2 separate regions of the Homo sapiens genome follow, and region 1 is linked to region 2. The links come from fine-mapping of genetic effects on plasma protein levels. Region 2 holds a variant in brackets. A gene starts in the other region. All regions are shown on their reverse strands.

Evidence for each region. PIP is the chance, under the fine-mapping model, that this variant and not a neighbour inherited with it causes the effect. The UK Biobank Pharma Proteomics Project read protein levels with antibody pairs (Olink). The fine-mapping took linkage between variants from a reference panel, not from the people measured, so its PIPs are less certain.
Region 1: it holds the start of CXCL11, and the variant in region 2 is fine-mapped to the plasma level of the CXCL11 protein (UK Biobank, PIP above 0.99).

The regions. Positions count from the first base shown.
Region 1 is chr4:76,027,520-76,040,029 of GRCh38, reverse strand. It overlaps CXCL11 (C-X-C motif chemokine ligand 11), which reads left to right and starts at 3,960. Exons shown (of 4, transcript NM_005409.5): 1 at 3,960-4,103; 2 at 4,688-4,814; 3 at 4,911-4,983; 4 at 5,214-6,348. The coding sequence starts at 4,043. The coding sequence ends at 5,237. It also overlaps a transcript of ART3 not described here and the pseudogene RPL36P8.
Region 2 is chr7:99,753,149-99,765,799 of GRCh38, reverse strand. CYP3A4 (cytochrome P450 family 3 subfamily A member 4) reads left to right here. Exons shown (of 13, transcript NM_017460.6): 10 at 1,785-1,945; 11 at 3,533-3,759; 12 at 4,819-4,981; 13 at 7,572-8,833. The coding sequence ends at 7,667. It overlaps CYP3A4-AS1 (CYP3A4 antisense RNA 1), which reads right to left and starts at 1,868. Exons shown (of 1, transcript NR_198962.1): 1 at 1-1,868. RefSeq lists an enhancer at 1,889-2,169. The variant C/G (reference allele first, on the strand shown) is at 6,853.

The DNA of each region.
Region 1 (12,510 bases), not on the chromosome of region 2:
AAAATATCAGATATTACCTTTGCAGTAAGGAAGAAAATAAAACAATAGAAAATAAAATACAGTAGTCCCCTTGTTATCCTTGGGGGATACATTCCAAGACTCCCAGCAGAGTACTGAAGGAGAAAATTGTGATCCACAGTTTTTCTACACAGCTAAGTAGTAATTCACACATGAAGGCAAAAGGAAGAGTTTAGTCTTGTTTTATGTAAATTTGAATTATGTCTATTTTCTATTTAAAATAGTATAATGTAAAAATATGTTTAATAATTTCCAGGGTCTTTTTAAAAAAATTAAGAATCCCTATTTAAGAAATTGTCTTACACCAAAGCTATATGACAACACTTTAGCTAGTAAGCAGAAATATTCACTATTGTTTGTCTATATTATTTGAACTATGCTATTGCATTCATGCACTTTCTGTAAGTGATTTTTATGATTAGTATGCTATTTTTATATTCATGGTTATTATAATTTAAAATATTTTTATATGCTATAACAATGTCAACTCATCTTTTATTAAGTGGTTGTGTTTGTGTTAATGCTGAAAAACAGCTGAAAACAAGCTAGATGTGGTATGCCAATTCAGGAAAGGACACTGATAATAATAATAGCAGTTAATACATTTTGAGTGCTACATATTTTTCTAAATGATTAATATGCATTACCTCTTTTAATACCTAGTTTATAACAGCCCTATGAAAAAGGGGTCTGAGACCAGCCTGGCCAACATGGTAAAACCCCATCTCTACTAAAAATACAAAAATTGGCTGGGCGTGGTAACACATGCCTGTAATCCCAGCTACTTGGGAGGCTGAGGCAAGAAAATCGCTTGAACCCAGGAGGCGGAGGTTGCAGTAAGCCGAGATCATGCCACTGCACTCCAGCCTGGGTGGCACAGAGAGACTCCATCTCAAAAAAAAAAAAAAGTACTATTATTATCCCCAGTCTATAGATGAGAAAATAGCCTCAAAAAGTTGAGGTAACTTGTTCATAAATAACTGAATGTGGGCTGGGCACAGTGGCTCACGCCTGTAATCCCAGCACTTTGGGAGGCCAAGGCGGCAGGATCACCTGAGGTTAGGAGTTCAAGACCAGCTTGGCCAACATGGCTAAACACCATCTCTACTAAAACTATAAAAATTAGCCAGGCATGGAGGCACGCACCTGTAATCCCAGCTACTTGGGAGGCTGAGGCAGGCGAATCACTTGAATCCAGGAGGCAGAGGCTGTGGTGAGTCGAGATCACACCACTGCACTCCAGCCTGGGCTACAGAGCAAGAATCCATCTCAAAGATAAATAAATAAATAAATAAATAAATAAATAAATAAATAATCAAGGGTGGATTTGAACACAGGCTGACTCTAGAGCCTTCCCTATTAACAACTATGCTCTACTGTGTTTCTAATGCTGAGAAAATGAAAAGCAACATTAAAAAATAATAACAGATAAGGATTTATGAGCTCCAAGAACACATTCCTTTTACTTTACCCATATTCCTGAGGGAAAATTAGTCTTTCTTTACATATGTTAAATGAATTAATGGAAAAGAAGGAAAGAATATTCCAGCTACTTGGAAATTAATTAAAATACAGTAGCCCCCTCACCTTATCCTTGGGGGATATGTTCCAAGACCCCCAATGAGTGCCTGAAACTGCAGATAGTACTGAGCCCTGTATATATTGTATTTTTTCCTGTACATATATACCTATAAAAAAGTTTGATTTATAAATTAGCCACAGTAAGAGCATCAACATTAATATATAGAATAATTACAACAATATTCTGTAATAAAAGTTAAGTGACTGTGTAGTCTCTCTCTCTTCAAATATCTTATTGTACTATACTCACTCTTCTAGTGATGCTGTGAAATGATAAAATGTCTATGTGATGGGATGAAGTGATGGAGCAAGATGATGTGAGATTTCATCATGCTACTCAGAAAAGTGCACAATTTAAAACTTATGAATTATTTCTAGAATTTCTCATTTAATGGGGGACTACTGTAAAGACTTTCAAAGGTTTTAAAGACTAGTCATGGTTGTTAAAGAATTTAAATGCAGGATTATATCTAAATAAATATATAATTTCAAGATAAAATGCAAATGATAATTCTCAAAAAAAGAAGTTGAATAAGATAAAATAATAATCTAAAAGTAATAAACTGGCTATAAATTCCCCGATTATACCAACTTTTATTGGTAAAACTAGGAAATAGGAGAAAATTCTTGAAAGAAAGTTACAGTGATTTTCTCATGTTACAAAGACAGGAGCTAAAAAAATATTATTGATGGTTGATGTAAATAATTAGAAAAATTCAGGTAAAAATCTTTTTAAAGAATTTTAAGAATTAATATCAAAATGTAAAACAATGTATTCCTTTCAAATTACTTAAGGAAGGCCAAGCACCGTGGCTCATCCCAGTAATCCTAGCACTTTGGGAGACCAAGGCAGGAGGATTGCTTGAGGCCTGGAGTTCATGGCTGCAGTGAGCTATGATTGTGCCACTCGACTCCAGAATGGTGACAGAGTGAGACCCATCTCATTAAAAAAAACAAAAATGGCTTCAAAAAGTTAAATAAAATATATTTAAAGTTAGAAAGAAATCAAAGAAAACATAAAGAATCAGCAAGGAAGCATTTTAAAAATTACAGATTACCAGTTATACAGTAAATATATTTTATTAAGCTTACCCATTAGAAAGCTCCTTTGATATGATTTTCTTAAACATCTACAAGTGACACACTTAAAACAAAGATTTAGGAAGCTTAAGAGGAAAAGATAAAGACAAAAAAATAGGAATTACATCAAAGTAGAATCTCAGAGGTAAAACTATCACATGAGCAAAGAGGATCACTTTTTTTTATGATCCCTAATACAACTCATACAACTTCATGTACTAAGTAACAGTGCTAAAATATATATAAAGTAGCTTTCCACCATGGCCACCATTGGAGGGCAGCAGCCATGACACTGCACTACCCTATAGCTGTGGGCCTCAACAAGGGCCACAAGGTGACCAAGAATGTGAGCAAGCCCAGGCACAGCCACTGTGGGCGCCTGACCAAACTCACTAAATTTGTGTGGGACATGATCCCAGAGGTGTGTGGCTTCACCCCTAACGAGTGGCGTGGCATGGAGTTACTGAAGGTCTCCAAGGTCAAACAGGCCCTCAAATTCATCAAGAAAAGGGTAGGGACAAACATCTGCACCAAGAGAAGGCAGGAGGAGCTGAGCAACGTCCTGGCTGCCATGAGGAAAGCAGCTGCCAAGAAGGACTGAGCCCCCTGCCATCTGCCTATAATGAAAGCTTTGCAGAATAAAATAAATATAAAATAAAGTAATAAAATTAAATTAAATTTAAAAATAAAATAAAGCAAAACAAAATAAAATATATAAAGTAAAAATTGTTGAAAATGCAAAACAATATGGACATAAATACAGAAACACAGGGAAACTTCTTTAGGCACTCATTTACAGGTAAAAATATGAAATTGAATAAAGGTCATCTGGTGTCAAATAATATAGGCCTTATCTATTATAAGAGTTTGGACTGAAAAGCAAAAGTGAGATAATAAAAAAAAGCTTTTCAGAATATTATTTTGTATAGATATGTGAAGGATGAAGGGTGGGTGAAAGGACCAAAAACAGAAACACAGTCTTCCTGAATGAATGACAATCAGAATTCCGCTGCCCAAAGTAGTCCGACAATTAAATGGATTTCTAGGAAAAGCTACCTTAAGAAGGCTGGTTACCATCTGGGTTTTCACAGTGCTTTCACATTCTTATCACTTTCAACACTACTGCAAATAGGAAGGGACAGTAACATTTAGAAGAGAACAAAACAGAAACTCTTGGAAGCAGGAAAGGTGCATGACTCAAAGAGGGAAATTCCTGTGCCATAAAAGGATTGCTGGTGTATAAAATGCTCTATATATGCCAATTATCAATTTCCTTTCATGTTCAGCATTTCTACTCCTTCCAAGAAGAGCAGCAAAGCTGAAGTAGCAGCAGCAGCACCAGCAGCAACAGCAAAAAACAAACATGAGTGTGAAGGGCATGGCTATAGCCTTGGCTGTGATATTGTGTGCTACAGTTGTTCAAGGTATGCAGTAATTTTTATTTCTCAACCTATAAGTTCCTTTTCTAATGTTTCAAATGTCTTTTCTTCCACTTTTATCCTAAAAGACATGATAAAGTTTTATTTAATCTCACAGATTAGAAGTTACTACAGCTTTAGCACAGAAATGGTGGACATGTTTAAGATACTAGAGATGATTATTGAAACTAGAAATTATGAACTTCATGGAATTTTTGATTTGGCTAGAATATCTGGCAAAAGCCTTTAGCAACAGTTTTAAATGTCTGTTAAGAAGATTTTATATAGCGATCATGTTAACAAGCTTCCTGGGAAAATATTTGAGGATAAAATCAAGGGGGCAAAACAAGCTTCACCTCCAATAAACTTCCTTCATGCTTCCCATTTGTTAGCGATTTGCTTACTAATTTAATGAGAAAATAATCAACATCTTACTTAACTTTTCCCAGTAACAGTTGTGTTAAGTGCTATTTGACAAATTACTATCTTTACCCTTAATGAAAATTCTGCTCACGTTCACCACCAGCTATAAACCACAGCCATCTGTTGCAATCAGATGCATTACTAACTAATGCTATGATCTATTCTAGGCTTCCCCATGTTCAAAAGAGGACGCTGTCTTTGCATAGGCCCTGGGGTAAAAGCAGTGAAAGTGGCAGATATTGAGAAAGCCTCCATAATGTACCCAAGTAACAACTGTGACAAAATAGAAGTGATGTAAGTAATGAACTTGCTGAAGATGACAATGGTGCAGGCTTTTTTGTTTATGTATTTGCATCTAAACTTTAAGACTCTTGTATGTTCTTTTAACAGTATTACCCTGAAAGAAAATAAAGGACAACGATGCCTAAATCCCAAATCGAAGCAAGCAAGGCTTATAATCAAAGTAAGTTACCAAATTACTCCCATGTTATAATCTGTTTTATCCAAGACAGATCTTTTGAAAAAGAAAATAATGTGGACAACTACAGAAAGATTCTGCTATGATCCTGTGTGAAATATTCTGTTAAGGGGTCCTTGGTTGTAACAGCTTCCCCTTCTTACTACATGTTTTTAGATGTCCTGGGGGAAACAAGAACAGCCCAAGTAAATAAAACTCTTGTTTTCTTATTCCAGAAAGTTGAAAGAAAGAATTTTTAAAAATATCAAAACATATGAAGTCCTGGAAAAGAGCATCTGAAAAACCTAGAACAAGTTTAACTGTGACTACTGAAATGACAAGAATTCTACAGTAGGAAACTGAGACTTTTCTATGGTTTTGTGACTTTCAACTTTTGTACAGTTATGTGAAGGATGAAAGGTGGGTGAAAGGACCAAAAACAGAAATACAGTCTTCCTGAATGAATGACAATCAGAATTCCACTGCCCAAAGGAGTCCAACAATTAAATGGATTTCTAGGAAAAGCTACCTTAAGAAAGGCTGGTTACCATCGGAGTTTACAAAGTGCTTTCACGTTCTTACTTGTTGCATTATACATTCATGCATTTCTAGGCTAGAGAACCTTCTAGATTTGATGCTTACAACTATTCTGTTGTGACTATGAGAACATTTCTGTCTCTAGAAGTCATCTGTCTGTATTGATCTTTATGCTATATTACTATCTGTGGTTACGGTGGAGACATTGACATTATTACTGGAGTCAAGCCCTTATAAGTCAAAAGCATCTATGTGTCGTAAAACATTCCTCAAACATTTTTTCATGCAAATACACACTTCTTTCCCCAAACATCATGTAGCACATCAATATGTAGGGAGACATTCTTATGCATCATTTGGTTTGTTTTATAACCAATTCATTAAATGTAATTCATAAAATGTACTATGAAAAAAATTATACGCTATGGGATACTGGCAAAAGTGCACATATTTCATAACCAAATTAGTAGCACCAGTCTTAATTTGATGTTTTTCAACTTTTATTCATTGAGATGTTTTGAAGCAATTAGGATATGTGTGTTTACTGTACTTTTTGTTTTGATCCGTTTGTATAAATGATAGCAATATCTTGGACACATCTGAAATACAAAATGTTTTTGTCTACCAAAGAAAAATGTTGAAAAATAAGCAAATGTATACCTAGCAATCACTTTTACTTTTTGTAATTCTGTCTCTTAGAAAAATACATAATCTAATCAATTTCTTTGTTCATGCCTATATACTGTAAAATTTAGGTATACTCAAGACTAGTTTAAAGAATCAAAGTCATTTTTTTCTCTAATAAACTACCACAACCTTTCTTTTTTAAAAAAAGATCTATATACTTTCCAGGACATTTGAGATGCCTTTAACAATTTTGCCTTATATTTCAGAAACATACACCTATCCGTCATCATGAAAAACTGTTTAGAAATATATTTTAATGGGTAGGTGGGAAAGACAGTTGTTTCTTTTGTCGGCCTTGGGGGGTCTTGATAGTCCAAACCCCCTTCTTACTTGGAGAAAATCCCTTATGTGAGTGTTGGTGGGAGGCCAAAAGAGAGAAGCCAAAGACAGGAGATCCTCTCCTGTAGCCACAACAAGGACTCAGCCATGCTGTTTCTACCCTAGACTTTGAACTCCAGCTGGCATCACAAAGATACTATTAGTAAGAAAATTATTTCAAGCCTGGCAGCAGCAGGAGAAACAATGAAAGTCTTACAGTAGTGTCTTCCCAATGTGTGTTCCTGTAGCATGACTCTGGCTAGTCCTTCCTATCACCTAGTTCCCTTAGGTCTTTGTCCATTTTCCAAGACTTATTCTCCATTGTCCTGTGGATTCTTCAACCTCCAACTAAATTCTTTTTCTCCTTAAGATAGCCAGAGTTGGTTTCTCTGCATGTAACCAAAAGCCTTGACTGATAGCAGTACTCTCTATATAGGCACCCATACATTTGAAAAATAAAAATATTTATTATAGGATTATAATCAGATATATCTATATTGCATTATTATATAGGTTATAGATACAATATAGATTTATAATAAATTGTTATATAAATCTATATAAATATCTATATAGAGATGGGACTTCCATATAAATTCCCTGGATAGTTTTAAGACCTGAATCTGGCTGGGTGCGATGGCTCACATCTGTAATCCCAGCACTTTGGGAGGCCGAAGCGGGCGGATCACCTGAGGTCAGGAGTTCAAGACCAGCATGGCTAACATGGTGAAACCCCATTTCTACTTAAAATGCAAAAAATTAGCCGAGGCTGCTGGCACGTGCCTGTAATCCCAGCTACTCAGGAAGCTGAGGCAGGAGAATCGCTTGAACCCGGGAGGCAGAGGTTGCAGTGAGCTGAGATCATGCCATTGCATTCCAGCTTGGGCAACAAGAGTGAAACTGCACCTCAAAAAAAAAAAAAAAAAAAAGACTTGAATCTAATCTTTGACTACTTACAGTGATTTTTTTTTTAAGTCTCTTTAAAAATAAAAATTCACATAGTCAGCTGGGCATGGTGGCTCACACCTATAATCTGAGCACTTTGGGAGACCAACATAGGTGAATGGCTTAAGCCCAGGAGTTCAAGACTAGCTTGGGCAACATAGCGAAAATTCATCTCTATAAAAAATAGGAAAATTAGCTGGGTATGGTGGCACATGCCTGTAACCTCAGCTACTTGGGAAGCTGAGGTGGATGGATCACTTGGGTCTGGGAGGTTGAGGCTGCAGTCAGCTGTGATCACACCACTGCACTCCAGCCTGGGCAAAAGCCTGCCTCAAAAAAAAAAAAAATTCACAGAGTTAAGGCTGCATGATAAATTGGTATTTGTAAGAAGTATATTAAATATTATAGGCCAGTACATTATTACTGAGAAGAAAACATACACCTAAAGTTCTTCATAGCAAAATAAATATATGAAATATTAATAATTAACATATTTGAGCCAAGATCCTCCCCACCTTGGTACCTTTGCACATACTATTCTCTCTGCCCATTTCTTCACTAAGCTAATGCCTACTAATTGCTTAGGTCTCAGCTTAAATGACTTTTTCTCCAAGAAGCCTTTGAAACCACCACTTCAGCTTTAACTAGATTAGGTGTCCTATTTATTTATTTCCATAACACTCTCTATTTTTCCATCATACTACTTACTGCAATTGTAATTAATGAATTATTCCTGTGCCTAATATCTGCTCTCTCATAAGTGTAAAAGAAAGCTGCTGTAGCCCAGGCCAACAGTACAGTTTCTGGTGCATATCAGACCCTATTGAATGGCAATATAAACTAAGGGAAAAGGAATTTACAGCAGAGGAATGACACAAGGGAATGTACAGTAGTAGGAAGTATAAAGTGATTTTTAGGAATCATAATTAGATTCGTTTGGTTGGAAGGATGAAGGACATGAAACTGTAAATAACCTTGAATTTTACTCTGTACAAAATGGGGATTCAATAAATGTTTGTGAAGAAGAGAGTGACCCTATCAAAGTCATTGGAAAATATTCTGGGAATTGCATGAATGGTTGATTGAAAGTGGGAAAGAGTGGAGGAGGAAAATCAGTTGGGATTTGCTGCAATAGCTGCAATATCTCAGGTCTGTATTTCCAAAACTTCAAGGCATTCTCATATCATCTTTACAATTTTTTTTTAACATTTCTCTGTTTGATCTTCATTATATTTTTAGAAACTCTGTATACCACTTTATTTTACGTACATTTACATGAAAAGTAAACTTTCACTACTGTACATGTAAAATCGGTAATACATGCCATGGAAATAAAATGTAATGATAAAACAAAATACAATGAAAAAATACTAATATTCCCCCTGATTTAATTAATCAGAGGGATTGAAGTTAAGAAGAGAATAATTCACTGATACTAAACGTTATTATCAATGTACATGGTAGTGTCCCACACTTTGGGAAACACTGGTGTGAAAAGTAATGGGGCTGGCTCTGCAATAAGTTAAACATAATTATAGTAATTATATATTACTATATAATCCAGCAATTCCATTCCTAGGTATATACCCAAAAGAACTGAAACAGCTCTTTAAACAAAAACTGGTACACAAATGTTCATAGCAGCATTATACACAACAGCCAGAAAGCAGAAACAACCCAAATATCCATCAACAAGTGAATGGATAAAATGTGGTATACACACACAATAGATTATTCGGCCATAAAAAGGAATGAAGTACTGATACATGCTACAACATGGATGAACCTTGAAAATATGCTAAGTAAAAAAAGCCAGACACAAGGGACCACATATTGTATGATTCCATTTTATAGGAAATATCTAGAGTAGGCAAAACCATAAAAACAAAAAGCAAATTAGCTGACTGGGGTTTGGGGGAGGTGTTAATGAGGAGTAACTACTTAATGAGTATGGAGTTTCTGGGTGATGAAAATGTTCTGGAACTAAATTATGGTGATGGCTTCACAGCACTGTGAAAGTACTTAACTCCACTGAATTGTACTCTTTTAAATGGTTAAAATGGTAAATTTTATGTTATTTGTATTTTACTATCATAAAAAGAAGAAGGGCTACACTAAGGTGGTATTGGTAAGAGTAGAAATATAATGACAAGTACACTGTACAAAAATAATCAAGACAGTGATAGATTGGATGTGAAAGTTGAAGCTGAGGCCAGACACGGTGGCTCACGCCTGTAATCCCAGCACTTTGGGAGGCCGAGGCGGGTGGATCACGAGGTCAGCAGTTCAAGACCAGCCTGGCCAACATGGTGAAACCCCGTCTCTACCAAAGATACAAAAAATTAGCTGGGCATGGTGGTGCATGCCTGTAATCCCAGCTACTCAGGAGGCTGAGGCAGGAGAATCGCTTGAACCCGGGAGGTGGAGGTTGCAGTGAGCCGAGATCGCGTCATTGCACTCCAGCCTGGGCTACATAGAGCGAGACTCCATCTCAGAAAAAGAAAGTTGAAGATGCAAAAAAGAAACAAAGAACATGTTAAGGATTTGAGTCTGAATTTAAAGCAGAGAAGAGACAAGGAAAAAAGGCTGAACTTCTGAGGTCTGAAAGAATAGTTCTGTCACTAACAGAAATAGGGATATGAGGGGGAAGATGTAGTTTAGCAGAAAAAACTGCAGATTCGATTTTAAATACATGGAACTTAAGATGCCAAACACTCACAGTGACTTAAAATTTCAGGACTGTTTCCTCTAATTAGCCAAGAAGAGCTTTCAAACAAATGGAGTAGTTTTGGATAATGCTATTAGAAAAGGAAAGATTATACTTAATTATTTTTGGCTACTGAGTACAGGACCTAATATGCCCACATGGAATTAATATACCTCTTTGTATCTATTTCTGAAAAGATTTTCATAGCCAACAATTATAAATCTTTATGATATGGTCAGCACATTCTGTGGATTATAAGTAGTACACACACAAAAAAAACTGTTAGGGTTTTTTTTGGAGAAGGGGTGAATGAGGCAATTTTAGTTGCTTCTTCTTGCCTTGTCTGCAAATTTTATTAACCAGACACTGGTAATGAAATTGAGCAAGTCTGAGATTATCACATAACACTGAAACCATAGTTTCACTTAAGTACCTAAGAAGAATACGTCCTAAAAATCCTGGCACCATAAGTACAGATGTATTCATAGTTCCTTAGTGCTGCTCAATAAACTGCTACTAAATTGGAAATGCCCTAACGTGAATTATAGACTCTATATAATAAATCCTGACTTAGCATTCTTCTTCAAATTGTTCACAAAGACAAACTGTCAATAAGAAGTTGAAGAAAACTGAATGATAATCTAAAATATGGAATAACAGGCACTACTGAACTATATCATATCTCAAGATTCCTCTTCTCAAAAGAAAAGACAACCAATGATGAATCAATTAAAATTAAAACTAGACATTTTCTAAAGATTTTGATTAAAAATGGAACAAAGTATCACAAAATTCTAATTTATTTTGTTGAAATATCTTATTTATGGGAAGGAGAAAGAAATGCACCATACTTCCCCCAAACACATTTACTTTATTATAATGTCCTCCAATTTTGTCTCTTCCTCCAAATGATGAAATCTGCCATATTTGTAAAAGTCCTCTCAAGTGCGCGAGTTCAGAAACACTGCATAGCCTAAAATGTATCCAAACAGAAGCTATTCTGAGCCTCTGCCTCCTCCAATGCCATGATGATTGTTAGGGTCTACCACCCACTTTGCCAGCACTCAGTTTGCCCTCTGCTTAGGCTGGCTATGAAGGATGAGACACATGGGTAATTGAAAAGTATGTAACCAGTATTACCAAACACTGTGAGCTCGGGGAATCTTTTGAGAGCTCAGAGTGAAAACTGTGAAGGGGAAGCTTTGCCCTGCTCTCCCATACTTTCCAAGGCATATTCTGCACCAGCTGAGGGGATTCCCAGTCCACAGAAATCACTGATGTCCTCCTGCTCACTTTTTAGAAAATTTCTTCTAAGCATAACAGTTTCCGGGAAAGCATTTTTGCCTTCGTCTGTGCTCATTAGTTTGTCAGGGCAGACTGTTCCTTTTTTCATTGTTGTCTTTTTTGGCCTGATGCCATAATCACAGGCTTAAAGATAAATCAATAGCGACTGAAACGGAAACTAAAGCGGGATACTTCCTTAACTTTCATTTTCTTTCAAAATTATACTCAGATCAGTGAATTCTAGGAACGTGATTATACCATAAACGTTGCAAAAATTGAGAGAAATATATAAAAAGAGTTATCATTTAGATTTTTATTCAAATGACACATGCAGTCTTGGCTTTGGGTGAAATAAGTAATAGTGGGCTTGCTACTGTCTCTAAAAGTTTGATTTTTTTTTTCTAAATGATTTTCCATGTTGATCACATTTGTCAGGTTTCTACCCTGAGCAGAACCCTCATTTAAAACAAGAAGAGAAGGGTCCTTCGTTTGACTCTGCTCACCAGGTACTGTTCTGATACTAATTCAATTTCCTAGGCAATCTGATCTTGGGAAAGGGGTGACTTGGATACCAAAACCAATCATCCTAGTCACTGAAAAGGTTCTCATTGTAAATGGATACACTGTCTTTTAATTTTCATCTTAGTCTATCTGAGATTTGGTTAGCAGAGTTAACTCTCTGAGAATATGCTTACCCTGGATGATTAGGAAAAAATGAGAATTTCTGGACTGGAAAAACTGAGGACCAGATTTTATAGAATCCTAACACGGCATTATCACCCCTATGAGTCTACCAATCTTCCTGACTGGTTGGTTGGCTTCCCCCTTTACCATTTTTTGATGACATTTATCTGTCATCAAATGTAATGGATTGTAATGGATACACTGTCTTTTAATTTTCATCTTAGTCTATCTGAGATTTGGTTAGCAGAGTTAACTCTCTGAGAATATGCTTACCCTGGATGATTAGGAAAAAATGAGAATTTCTGGACTGGAAAAACTGAGGACCAGATTTTATAGAATCCTAACACGGCATTATCACCCCTATGAGTCTA
Region 2 (12,651 bases):
TCTGAGACCGTGTAAATATCCTCTTTGTCTTCAATGTTTCACCTACGAGTTTTACAACCCATGTATGTTTTTTACTGAAGTCACTATTACTATGACAGTGGCAAAATGATGACCATGGTCAATTACAAGCCACCAAGACTTGGCAACCATCTCACAAAATTCCTGAATATTTAACTATTGGTTCTAGAGAGCAGGACTGGGCTTACTCCAGCATACTGCTTTAAATATATCCATGTCTACATCCACTTTTGTCTGTATGTCTATGTATCTATCTATGTATCTATCTAGCTATGTATCTATCTATCTATCTATCATCTATCTATCTATCATCTATCCATCTATCATCTATCATTTATCCATCTATCATCTATCTACTTATATATTATCTATCTATCATCTAACTATTCATCTATCTATCCCAATATAACTTGCTGTGATAAAGGAAATAGTCTATTGTTTTACTGTTTCATATAGAAATCACTAGACACATATGGCTATTGAGCACTGGATATGTGGCTAGTGCCATTGAAGATCAATTTTAAATGGTATTTCAGTTTAATTTAATAAAATTTGATTTTAAATAGCCACTAGTGGGTAGTGGCTACCATATTGGACAGCAGAGCTCTAAACTTTGAGATTATAGTTCAATTTCACATCAGTATCATCAGGTTCATGATAACTGAATACTATGATTAGGTAGTTGAATTTACTTATAACTGCATCACAGAAGTCTTCACTGGTAAATCACAGCTCTGTCGACCTTTCTCACACTCCTTTCATATTGGTTTTGGTTGTGAATTACATGGTTGGAGCAGGCATTATATTTATTTCTATGTTCCAGGTCTCTAAAGGTCCTAATCCAGTCCTGATCAAACAGACCAGTGATGGACCATCCTGAGCTTCTCTCAGGAGAAAAATCAAGAGGGGCCCAACTTGTAATCATAGGAGCTTATGCTATTTTAATGCCATCCATCAGACTACAATCAATTACCACTCATCTAGCTTTTTGTCCATCTCTCATTCTTGTACATCCTGAGATAGTCAATTCTGAGAACTGTAGCCTAGATCTATCACCTGATGCCTCTCAAAGATATAATCCGTGCTTCTCAAGCTAGGCTATGCACACAAATCACTGCATCTTGTGAAAGTTCAGATTTTGAATCAGTAGTTCAAGGGTGGGGTTTGAGATTTTGCATTTCTAATGAGCTCTCAGATGCTTCTGACCCATGGACCACACTTTGAATACCAAGAAGTGGTCTGTAGACCAATATTGGTCCCTTAAGTTCCCTCAAACATATCTTCGGGAAACGTCCTTTGATTTTCCCTACATTTAACCATTAGTGTTGCAAATTCTCTCAAAGTTTGTCAAGATATATTGTAGCTAAAATAAATTACATTTTTCTTGGGGGAGAGTACTACCTCATATTAACTTACAATAAAGTACTTTTAGGATCATTCAAGGAACACACCCATAACACTGAGTATGTTATGCGGAAATGCTCTCTCTGGAAATTACACAGCTGTGCAGGTGGCGGGGGTGGCATGAGGAGGAGTGGATGGCCCACATTCTCGAAGACCTTGGGGAAAACTGGATTAAAATGATTTGCCTTATTCTGGTTCTGTAAGATACACATCAGAATGAAACCACCCCCAGTGTACCTCTGAATTGCTTTTCTATTCTTTTCCCTTAGGGATTTGAGGGCTTCACTTAGATTTCTCTTCATCTAAACTGTGATGCCCTACATTGATCTGATTTACCTAAAATGTCTTTCCTCTCCTTTCAGCTCTGTCCGATCTGGAGCTCGTGGCCCAATCAATTATCTTTATTTTTGCTGGCTATGAAACCACGAGCAGTGTTCTCTCCTTCATTATGTATGAACTGGCCACTCACCCTGATGTCCAGCAGAAACTGCAGGAGGAAATTGATGCAGTTTTACCCAATAAGGTGAGTGGATGGTACATGGAGAAGGAGGGAGGAGGTGAAACCTTAGCAAAAATGCCTCCTCACCACTTCCCAGGAGAATTTTTATAAAAAGCATAATCACTGATTCTTTCACTGACTCTATGTAGGAAGGCTCTGAAAAGAAAAAGAAAGAAACATAGCAAATGGTTGCTACTGGCAGAAGCGTAAGATCTTTGTAAAACGTGCTGGCTCTGGTTCATCTGCTTTCTATTACTACAATAATGCTAAGTAAAAAACCTCCAAAAACCTCAGTGGCATCTAACAATAAGCATTTGTTGCTCACACTCATTTCACATTGGTTTTGGTTGTGAATTACATGTTTGCAGCAGGCACCATAGTGGTGTGTGATGTCCCCTTAGCTGTATCCACATATGGACACAGGAATTTGCTCTTTTTATCTCTTTTTATTTTCTTGGTTACAGACATGTGACTTTTTTTTTTGAAAGGTAACAATCACTTTCTCATATGTTATTTGATGCTAGTGGTCATAGCCTATTAGTCACATTTGTTTCAATGAGAAAGAAAAACCAGTACACGGTTATGCTAAGGATTTCAGTCCCTGGGGTGAGAGCCGTCTCGAATGTCTCCCCACTTCATAACTCCTCCACACATCATAGTTGGATAGTGAGCTCTGCTGATATTGGCAGGACTTGCTCTGGTCTGGCTGTAGTCTGACGGAGCCTGGCCCTGGGTGTGCTGTGCAGGCTGACTCAGCTCTCCCCACACCTATCTCATGTTCCAGTCAGGCAGTAACTGGTGAAGAAGCCAAGCTAGGAACCAGGATATCTGGCTCCTGAGCTAAAGTCTTAAAACACTATCATATTGCCTTCCAAATATAACACCAAATACTAGGTGCATATCACCCACACTGTTTTCAGACCTCTGCCAAAATTGGGATTCTTTGTGGTATGAAGAGACACGGCTTTGGGGCTGGCCCGGCTGTGGCAGTGAGGTGAACACAAAGGGATGTTCTTCAGAGATTACAGTCCAGCCCTGAAGCAACAACTAGGAGACTGTTTCAGCAAGTGAGGACAGGGCTGTGTGGGGTTCTATCCTCTTTATAACTTCCACTAGCACTGAAATCGTGTTCTCTGGTTACATCCAACCAGAACCTTCTTTGTCATTTTTGGGATAGAAAGGGACTAGTTTATCCTCAAATTATTTATGGAGATTTTATATAATATAGTGTTTCTCTCCACATTTTCTGTATATAACAAAAGTCCTCCTTTTAGTGTGTGTATACACATATATATACACATATATATGTGTGTGTGTATGTGTGTGTGTATATATATATAGACATATATACACGGTTATGCTAAGGATTTCAGTCCCTGGGGTGAGAGCCTTCCCGAATGCTTCCCACCTTCATAACTCCTCCACACATCTCAGTGGGCCACTGAGCACAGCAATGGGCATGACAGTTATTAAAACACTTTATAAATGCTTCGATCCTTTACCAGTATGAGTTAGTCTCTGGAGCTCCTAATACTTCATTAGTACTGCATGGACTGAGTTAAAAGTTAATTCAAAATCTCAATTTATCCAAATCTGTTTCGTTCTTTCCAGGCACCACCCACCTATGATACTGTGCTACAGATGGAGTATCTTGACATGGTGGTGAATGAAACGCTCAGATTATTCCCAATTGCTATGAGACTTGAGAGGGTCTGCAAAAAAGATGTTGAGATCAATGGGATGTTCATTCCCAAAGGGGTGGTGGTGATGATTCCAAGCTATGCTCTTCACCGTGACCCAAAGTACTGGACAGAGCCTGAGAAGTTCCTCCCTGAAAGGTACAAGGCCCCTGGGAAGGGAGCCCTCCCTGAACCAGCCTGGTTCAAGCATATTCTGCCTCTCTTAATCTACAGGACAGTCATGTGGTTGTATAATTATTTGCTTGTATTTTTATATTTAGAGATTTTTTTAATCATCAAATTGATTATTGTCACACTTTACAAACCATAGACTAGAAAAAAGAAAACTACAGTCATCCACAATTCCAACAACTTACGATGAAGGTCATCAGTTATGTCCTTATGGGTCATCAGTGTCCAAAATGTAAGGACTCTTTTAAAAACACATGATCACAATGCTATTATTATGTCCCCCAAATGAATATTTTTTTCATAAATATAATCAAATATTTAGGAATAACATTTTAATAAAAAACATGCATCTAATCTTCAAAGAATTTTATAGCTTACTGGAACAGATAGACAAAGAAAGCAGTGATGATACTGCATTACATCGGTACAGTAGCATCATATGCCTGTGTAAATTATCTGACTTCAACTATTCTATGGAGGTGTGGGGGAGAAAGAGGGAGAGATGGAGAGAAGAAGAAGGAGGAGAAGGAGGGAGAAGACAAGGTAAGGAGGAGAAGGAGGAGAATTAGAAAAACAAGAGAGGAGATGAGAAGGAAAGTGCAAAATAACAATTTTGAAATAGTACAAGACAATTTCCCCTTCTCCTTCCTCATGACCAATGTAAGTGTGACTTGAGGCAGGAACCTACTTTTCCATCAGTCAGTCCCATCACTTATGTGCCTTTTATAGTGTGGACACATCACCACCCTGAATATAATTTCAGTGTTTAGAAATAAGTATTCTTTGCAACACTATTTATCTCATCTCAACAAGACTGAAAGCTCCTATAGTGTCAGGAGAGTAGAAAGGATCTGTAGCTTACAATTCTCATAGCAAAATAAGCATAGCAGGATTTCAATGACCAGCCCACAAAAGTATCCTGTGTACTACTAGTTGAGGGGTGGCCCCTAAGTAAGAAACCCTAACATGTAACTCTTAGGGGTATTATGTCATTAACTTTTTAAAAATCTACCAACGTGGAACCAGATTCAGCAAGAAGAACAAGGACAACATAGATCCTTACATATACACACCCTTTGGAAGTGGACCCAGAAACTGCATTGGCATGAGGTTTGCTCTCATGAACATGAAACTTGCTCTAATCAGAGTCCTTCAGAACTTCTCCTTCAAACCTTGTAAAGAAACACAGGTTAGTCAATTTTCTATAAAAATAATGTTGTATTAATAATTCTTTTAACTGAGTGGTCTGTATTTTTTAAAAAGAATATGCTTGTTTAATCTTTTACTAATTTGTTCTCTGGGCCAAAGAATCAATTAGGCCCATCTGTGATCTTTAAGGGTGCTTCAGTTCTGGAGTTCAAAAGCTGTAGCATCAAAAACATCATGTAAAGCCCATGTAGATTAGCATGGCATAATTATCTGCAGTCTCCTTGAACTTGAGCAAAGTTTACATTCAGTTTCAAGTCGATTGGAAAGATGGGGAAGTATTTTGCACAGTCATGAAGTGTAATGATTACCTTGTTGTGACTTTTGAATGCTGCTCTTCCCAACCAGAACTTGGAGAAGCTTTCTCATGAGAGTGGCTCCCAACCACTAGCTGTACATTGGAATCACCAGGGAGCTTTAAAAATTCATGATGTCTGGGATATCACAGAAATTCTAAACTAATTTGCCCAGAGTGTGGCTTTAAAAGCTTCCCCATTGCTTCTCATGTGAAGCCAAGGTTGAGAATGACTAATTTAAGGCATTTCTGGTGGATATAAAGGACTACCACAGTCCAAGGCCATCCTGACTGACCTCACCTTCCAGGTGCCTAGCTCCATCCAGCTGGGCTCCTTTTCAACCCAATTATAACTCTATTAATGTTGTTCCCAGCCAGGCATGGTGGCTCATGCCTGTAATCCCAGCACTTTGGGAGGCCGAAGCAGGCGGATCATGAGGTCAGGAGATCGAGACCATCCTGGCTAACACGGTGAAACCCCGTCTCTACTAAAAATACAAAAAATTACCCTGGAGAGGTGGCAGGCACCTGTAGTCCCAGCTACTCTGGAGGCTGAGGCAGGAGAATGGCATGAACCCCAGGGAGCGGAGCCTGCAGTGAGCCGAGATTGGGCCACTGCACTCCAGCCTGGGTGACAGCGAGACTCTGTCTCAAAAAAAAAAAAATGTTGTTCCCTTTCTCCTCATTTTGTTCTTATCTTTCAAGTCCTAGTTCAATCCCCAAGCCCCTCCAAAGTGTCTTCTCCTCCTAGTCCAGGGCCCATTTACTTCTCTGCTCTGTTATTGGATACTGGAGGCTATTATCATAAATTTGACAATTTGCCATTAAATCATTGAGTTTTATTCTCTATATTTTCTTTGTATCTAAAATGTCTTCCCCCCTCCATTAACAATATCCTCTCATTTTATTCCTTTTTAAAATATCCCAGTGGTGCCTTGCAAGGGACTGTATCTAATGCAAGCATTTGGTAAATGTTTAAGGAGTGATGTGCAGTTGATGGCTTGCATACATATATTAAGCTATTTAATGTGAACCTTTAAACAAATGCCATTCGTGCATATGCATGTGTGTGTGTGTGTGTGCACATGTGGGCATGCATGTCTGTCTGCAGTGAAAATATATTCAGGGTTTTTGAAAATTTTTAAATAATAAGGTATTATATTTATAGAAAGATTTGAAATATTTTCTCTGAAGAAGTTAAAGAACAGACGTCATTGATTCATATTAAACAATACCCTATAAATCTTATTTCTAGGTCTCATGTATTTATTATTCAATTCCACCCCTTAAGTAGGCTTTCTATATAGGAGAGGAAGAAGACAGAAATAGTTTCCATATTATTTCCATATTCCATATTATTTGTGGCTTTAGGCCAGCAGTGTAGCTGTATTATATGTGCCCAGACAGGGGACTCAGCCCTGAATAAAAGTGGTCCTCTGGCACACCTGGGATGGGGAAGGTACTCCTTGGTAAGCTCCCAACCTGGCACTTCTTGATCTCCCTGGCAATTTTCTTGCCCATTACTCCATGGAGATCAGAATATCACTCTGTTGTGTCCC[C/G]TCAACACGGAAGGAGTGTCTCAATAAGAATGGGGCTAAAAGTTGAGTCCAAACACTGTAGGAATTGAGAGGTTCCCCACTTGCACTACCCTTGGAAGCCAAGAGAAGATGTTAAAAAATAAAATGGTAATGCTTCCTGAAGGTGTCTTCCCATCTTTACACTGGATGGGTTCAATTGGGAGGAATTACTGGACTCTGGAAGTTGAAGACTGTCCATATAATTAAAATGTACAATAACTACCCAGGTTTACCTTGCAAGTTTCAACATACACAAAATTAACTTTATATGACTCTTCAAAAACAGTTTGCCATCATACCTAATAATCTGGTTTAAATTTTAAAAACTCATCCATTTTACTTAAAATTTAAATCAAAAAAGAACACAGGTTTCCATGAATTTGTCTCAGGCCTGGCACAGAATAGTACTCCATAAATATTTTGTTAAATGATAGATGATGAATGCTCTCACTGTCCAATCTTCACACATCTTATAGACTAAGTATAAAGAATCCAAGATTTATAGTGCTGAAAGTAGTTTTTATATGTTTACAAAGCATTATTGTCATTACTGCATTTTTTTTGCCCATTACTCCATAGAGATCAGAATATCACTCTGTTGTGTCCCCTCAACACTGAAGGAGTGTCTCACTCACTTTGATGCTATACTTTCTACTTTTGTTTATTTAATGCTTCTCAATATGCTTGTTTAACTGTTGCAGATCCCCCTGAAATTAAGCTTAGGAGGACTTCTTCAACCAGAAAAACCCGTTGTTCTAAAGGTTGAGTCAAGGGATGGCACCGTAAGTGGAGCCTGAATTTTCCTAAGGACTTCTGCTTTGCTCTTCAAGAAATCTGTGCCTGAGAACACCAGAGACCTCAAATTACTTTGTGAATAGAACTCTGAAATGAAGATGGGCTTCATCCAATGGACTGCATAAATAACCGGGGATTCTGTACATGCATTGAGCTCTCTCATTGTCTGTGTAGAGTGTTATACTTGGGAATATAAAGGAGGTGACCAAATCAGTGTGAGGAGGTAGATTTGGCTCCTCTGCTTCTCACGGGACTATTTCCACCACCCCCAGTTAGCACCATTAACTCCTCCTGAGCTCTGATAAGAGAATCAACATTTCTCAATAATTTCCTCCACAAATTATTAATGAAAATAAGAATTATTTTGATGGCTCTAACAATGACATTTATATCACATGTTTTCTCTGGAGTATTCTATAAGTTTTATGTTAAATCAATAAAGACCACTTTACAAAAGTATTATCAGATGCTTTCCTGCACATTAAGGAGAAATCTATAGAACTGAATGAGAACCAACAAGTAAATATTTTTGGTCATTGTAATCACTGTTGGCGTGGGGCCTTTGTCAGAACTAGAATTTGATTATTAACATAGGTGAAAGTTAATCCACTGTGACTTTGCCCATTGTTTAGAAAGAATATTCATAGTTTAATTATGCCTTTTTTGATCAGGCACAGTGGCTCACGCCTGTAATCCTAGCAGTTTGGGAGGCTGAGCCGGGTGGATCGCCTGAGGTCAGGAGTTCAAGACAAGCCTGGCCTACATGGTTGAAACCCCATCTCTACTAAAAATACACAAATTAGCTAGGCATGGTGGACTCGCCTGTAATCTCACTACACAGGAGGCTGAGGCAGGAGAATCACTTGAACCTGGGAGGCGGATGTTGAAGTGAGCTGAGATTGCACCACTGCACTCCAGTCTGGGTGAGAGTGAGACTCAGTCTTAAAAAAATATGCCTTTTTGAAGCACGTACATTTTGTAACAAAGAACTGAAGCTCTTATTATATTATTAGTTTTGATTTAATGTTTTCAGCCCATCTCCTTTCATATTTCTGGGAGACAGAAAACATGTTTCCCTACACCTCTTGCATTCCATCCTCAACACCCAACTGTCTCGATGCAATGAACACTTAATAAAAAACAGTCGATTGGTCAATTGATTGAGCAATAAGCCTAAAAGCACTCATTCCTTTTCTTTTCCAAATTCTTCCTTTATTTTCCCTTCCTGAATAATTTAGTCCTAAAGCCATTAGGTGGGTGGCAGCCAGATGGTGGCCACACATTAAGGTAGAGAAGAGAGAGTCATGGTGGCTCCAAGTCAGAGACCAAGGAGGTTCATGTGGAGAGACATCCTGGCCTGGGTGTGGGAGTCCAAGCAAGCAGAGAAGGGGTCGACGCAGAGGGGTGGCTTGCAAGAGCAGCCAGAGCCTAAATAGGGTATGGAGAACCCACATGAGGCGAGGAGGGCATCCATGAGTGGGAGGGGTTGGGTGAGGTTTGGCTACATAAAGGGGATTGATCAAATAAGTAAATGTATTAAGGATGATAGAAGCCAGGCTTCTCACCTTTGCAGAAGGGAGTCATGGATTCAGAAAGGGAGAAAACTAGCATGAATCCTATGAAATTAGATTGGAATGGATGTAACCGTGTATATTCATACCCTTGTAGATAGATAGATGGGTAGATAGATGATAGATAGGTAACAGATAGATGACAGATAATGAGATAGATAGATGTAAATGTATGTCTGTATTTGTGTGTGTGTACAAAAAACATATATTCCCTACTTCTCTCCACTGATAGGGCTAGGTAACAATGACATTTCAATAGCAATGAACACACTTAGTGCCCCGATCTTGGCTTATGAATACCATTTTCCACTGAAGGGAACCAGAGCTCTTTAGAGAAATGGCTGATGCCAGGGCAAGAATTAAGAATGTTCAAGATAAGTTTAGGACACATTTTGTGCCAGGAAGCAAGAAAATTTTCAAATAATTTCCAAGTAATCTTTGGAAATGATACTTGAAAATGACTTCCAAATGACATTTCCAAATGACTTGCAAACGATTTCCAAATGATATTTGGAAAAACCTAAAGACTCCATCAAAGAACTATTGGAACTGATAAACACATTCAGTAAAGTTGCAGGATACAAAATCAGCATACAAAAATCAGTAGCATTTCTATATGCCAATAGTGAACAATCTGGCAAAAATAAAAAAGTAATCCCATTTACAATAGCCACAAATAAAACTAAATACCTAGAAATTAACTTAATCAAAGAAGAGAAAGGTCTCTACAATGAATACTGTAAAACATTGATGAAAGGAATTGAAGACACAAAAAAGGATATTTCATGTTTATATATTGTGAGAATCAACATTGTTAAAAATGTCCACACTACTCAAAGCAATGTACAGATTCAATGCAATCCCTCAAAATACCAATGACATTCTTCAAATAAATAGAAAAAAATCCCATAATTTGTATGGAACCACAAAAGACCCATAATAGCCAAAGCTATCTTCAGCAAAAAGAACAAAACTGGAGGAATCATGTTACCTGACTTCAAATTATACTACAGAGGTACAGTAACCAAAACAGCATGGTTCTTGTATAAAAACAGACACATAGACCAATGAAATAGAAAAGAGAACCCAGAAACAAATGCAAACACCTACAGTGAACTCATTTTTGACACTGCTACCAAGAACATACCCTGGGGAACAGAACATCTCTTCAATAAATGGTGCTGGGAAAGCTGGATATCAATATGCAGAAGAATGAAACTAGACACCTATATCTCACCAGACACAAAAATCAAATCAAGGTGGATTAAAGGCTGAAATCTGGCTGAGCAGGGTGACTCATGACTGTAATCTCAGTACTTTGCAGAACTTTGAGAGGTCAAGGTGGGCAGATCACTTGAGGTCAGGAGTTCGAGACCAGCCTGGCCAACATAGTGAAACCCCATCTCTACCAAAAAATACACAAGTTAGCTGGGCATGGTGGTGCATTCCTGTAGTCCCAGCTAGTCCAGAAGCTAAGGTGGGAGAATCATTTGGACCTGGGAGGTGGAGGCTGCAGTGGGCCGAGATCATTCCAATGCACCTCATCCTGGGCAACAGAGTGAGACAGACTGAAGTCTAAGACCTCAAGCTATGAAGCTGCTACAAGAAAACATTGTGGAAACTCTTCAGGACATTGGTCTGGGCAAAAATTTCTGAAGTAATACCCCACAAGCACAGGCAACCAAAGCAAAAATGGACAAATGGAATCACATCAAGTTAAAAAGCTTCCGTGCCGCAAAAAAAGTAATCAACAAAGTGAAGACACAAACCACAGAATGGGAGAAAATACTTTCAAACTAACATTCTGACAACAGATTAATAGCCAGAATATATAAAGAGCTCAAACAACTCTGTAGGAAACAATCTAATAATCCAATCAAAAAATGGGCAAAAGATTTGAATAGATATTTCTCTCTCTCTTTTTTTTAATTTTGAGACGGAGTCTCTCTCTGTCGCCCAGGCTGGAGTGCAGTGGCACTATCTCGGCTCACTGTAAGCTCCTCCTCCTGGGTTCATGTCATTCTCCTGCCTCAGCCTCCCGAGTAGCTGGGACTACAGGTGCCCGCCACCATGCCTGGCTAATTTTTTTGTATTTTTAGTAGAGACGGGGTTTCACTGTGTTAGCCAGGATGGTCTCGATCTCCTGACCTCGTGATCCACCCGCCTTGGCCTCCCAAAGTGCTAGGATTACAGGCGTGAGCCACCGCGCCCGGCCTGAATAGACATTTCTCAAAAGAAGACAGACAAATGCCACATAGGCATATGATAAGGTGCTCAACATCATTGATCATTAGAGAAATGAAATAAAAAACTATAGTGAGATAGCATCTCACCCCAGCTAAAATGGCTTTTATCCAAAAGACAGGCAATAATAAATGCCAGCAAGAATGTGGAGAAAAGGAAACCCTTGTACACTGTTGGTGTAAATTAGTATAACCACTATAGAGAACAGTTTGGAGGTTCCTCAAAAAATTAAAAGAAAGCTACCATAAGATCCAGAAATCACAGTGCTTCGGTATATACCTGAAAGAACGGATATCCGTATACTGAAGAGATATCTTCACGCTCATGTTCACAATAGCCACTACTCACAAATGCTAAGATGTGGAAGCAACCTAAGTGTCCATCAACAGATGAATGGATAAAGAAAGTGCTCCACTTATACACAATGGAGTACAATTCAGATACGAAAAAAGCATGAGATCTTGTTATCTGTAATAACATGGATGGAACTGGAGGTCATCATGTTAAGTGAAATAAGCCAGGCACAGAAAGACAGACATTGCATGTTCTCACTTATTTGCAGGATCTACAAATCAAAACAATTGAGCTAATGTCTGGGTCTTAGTCAATTTTGTACCCTAAGTACTGTGAGCACAGCTTTTAAAATACATGATGAATGCTTTAATACAGGAATGAATAGATAAGAGGCACAGGGTGCCTCTGGGTGTTCTTCTGATACATAGTATCTTCCTTGACACATTCAGTACAACTCTCAGCAGGTAAGTCTCTTCATGTTATGTTACCTTCTGAGGAATTAGGTGGCAGAACATGCCTTCTACTATTTTCCTTTGCAGAACAAGACCAGTTGCATTAGTTGGGACACAGTGCTGGCTACATTTGAGTCCCAAGCAACGATTAGTCTATTGCTGAGAGTAATTAGTCTATTTCTACAGACTTAGAGGGGATGACACACAGGGGCCCAGCAATCTCACCCAAGTCAACTCTGCCAACCTTTCTGGTCACCCACCATGTGTACAGTACCTTGCTAGGGTCCAGGGTCATGAAAGTAAGTAATACCAGACTGTGCCCTTGAGGAGCTCACCTCTGCTAAGGGAAACGGGCACAGAAACCCACAATGGTGCTAGAGAGGAAAGAGGACAATAGGACTTTGTGAGGGGATAGGAGGCACCCA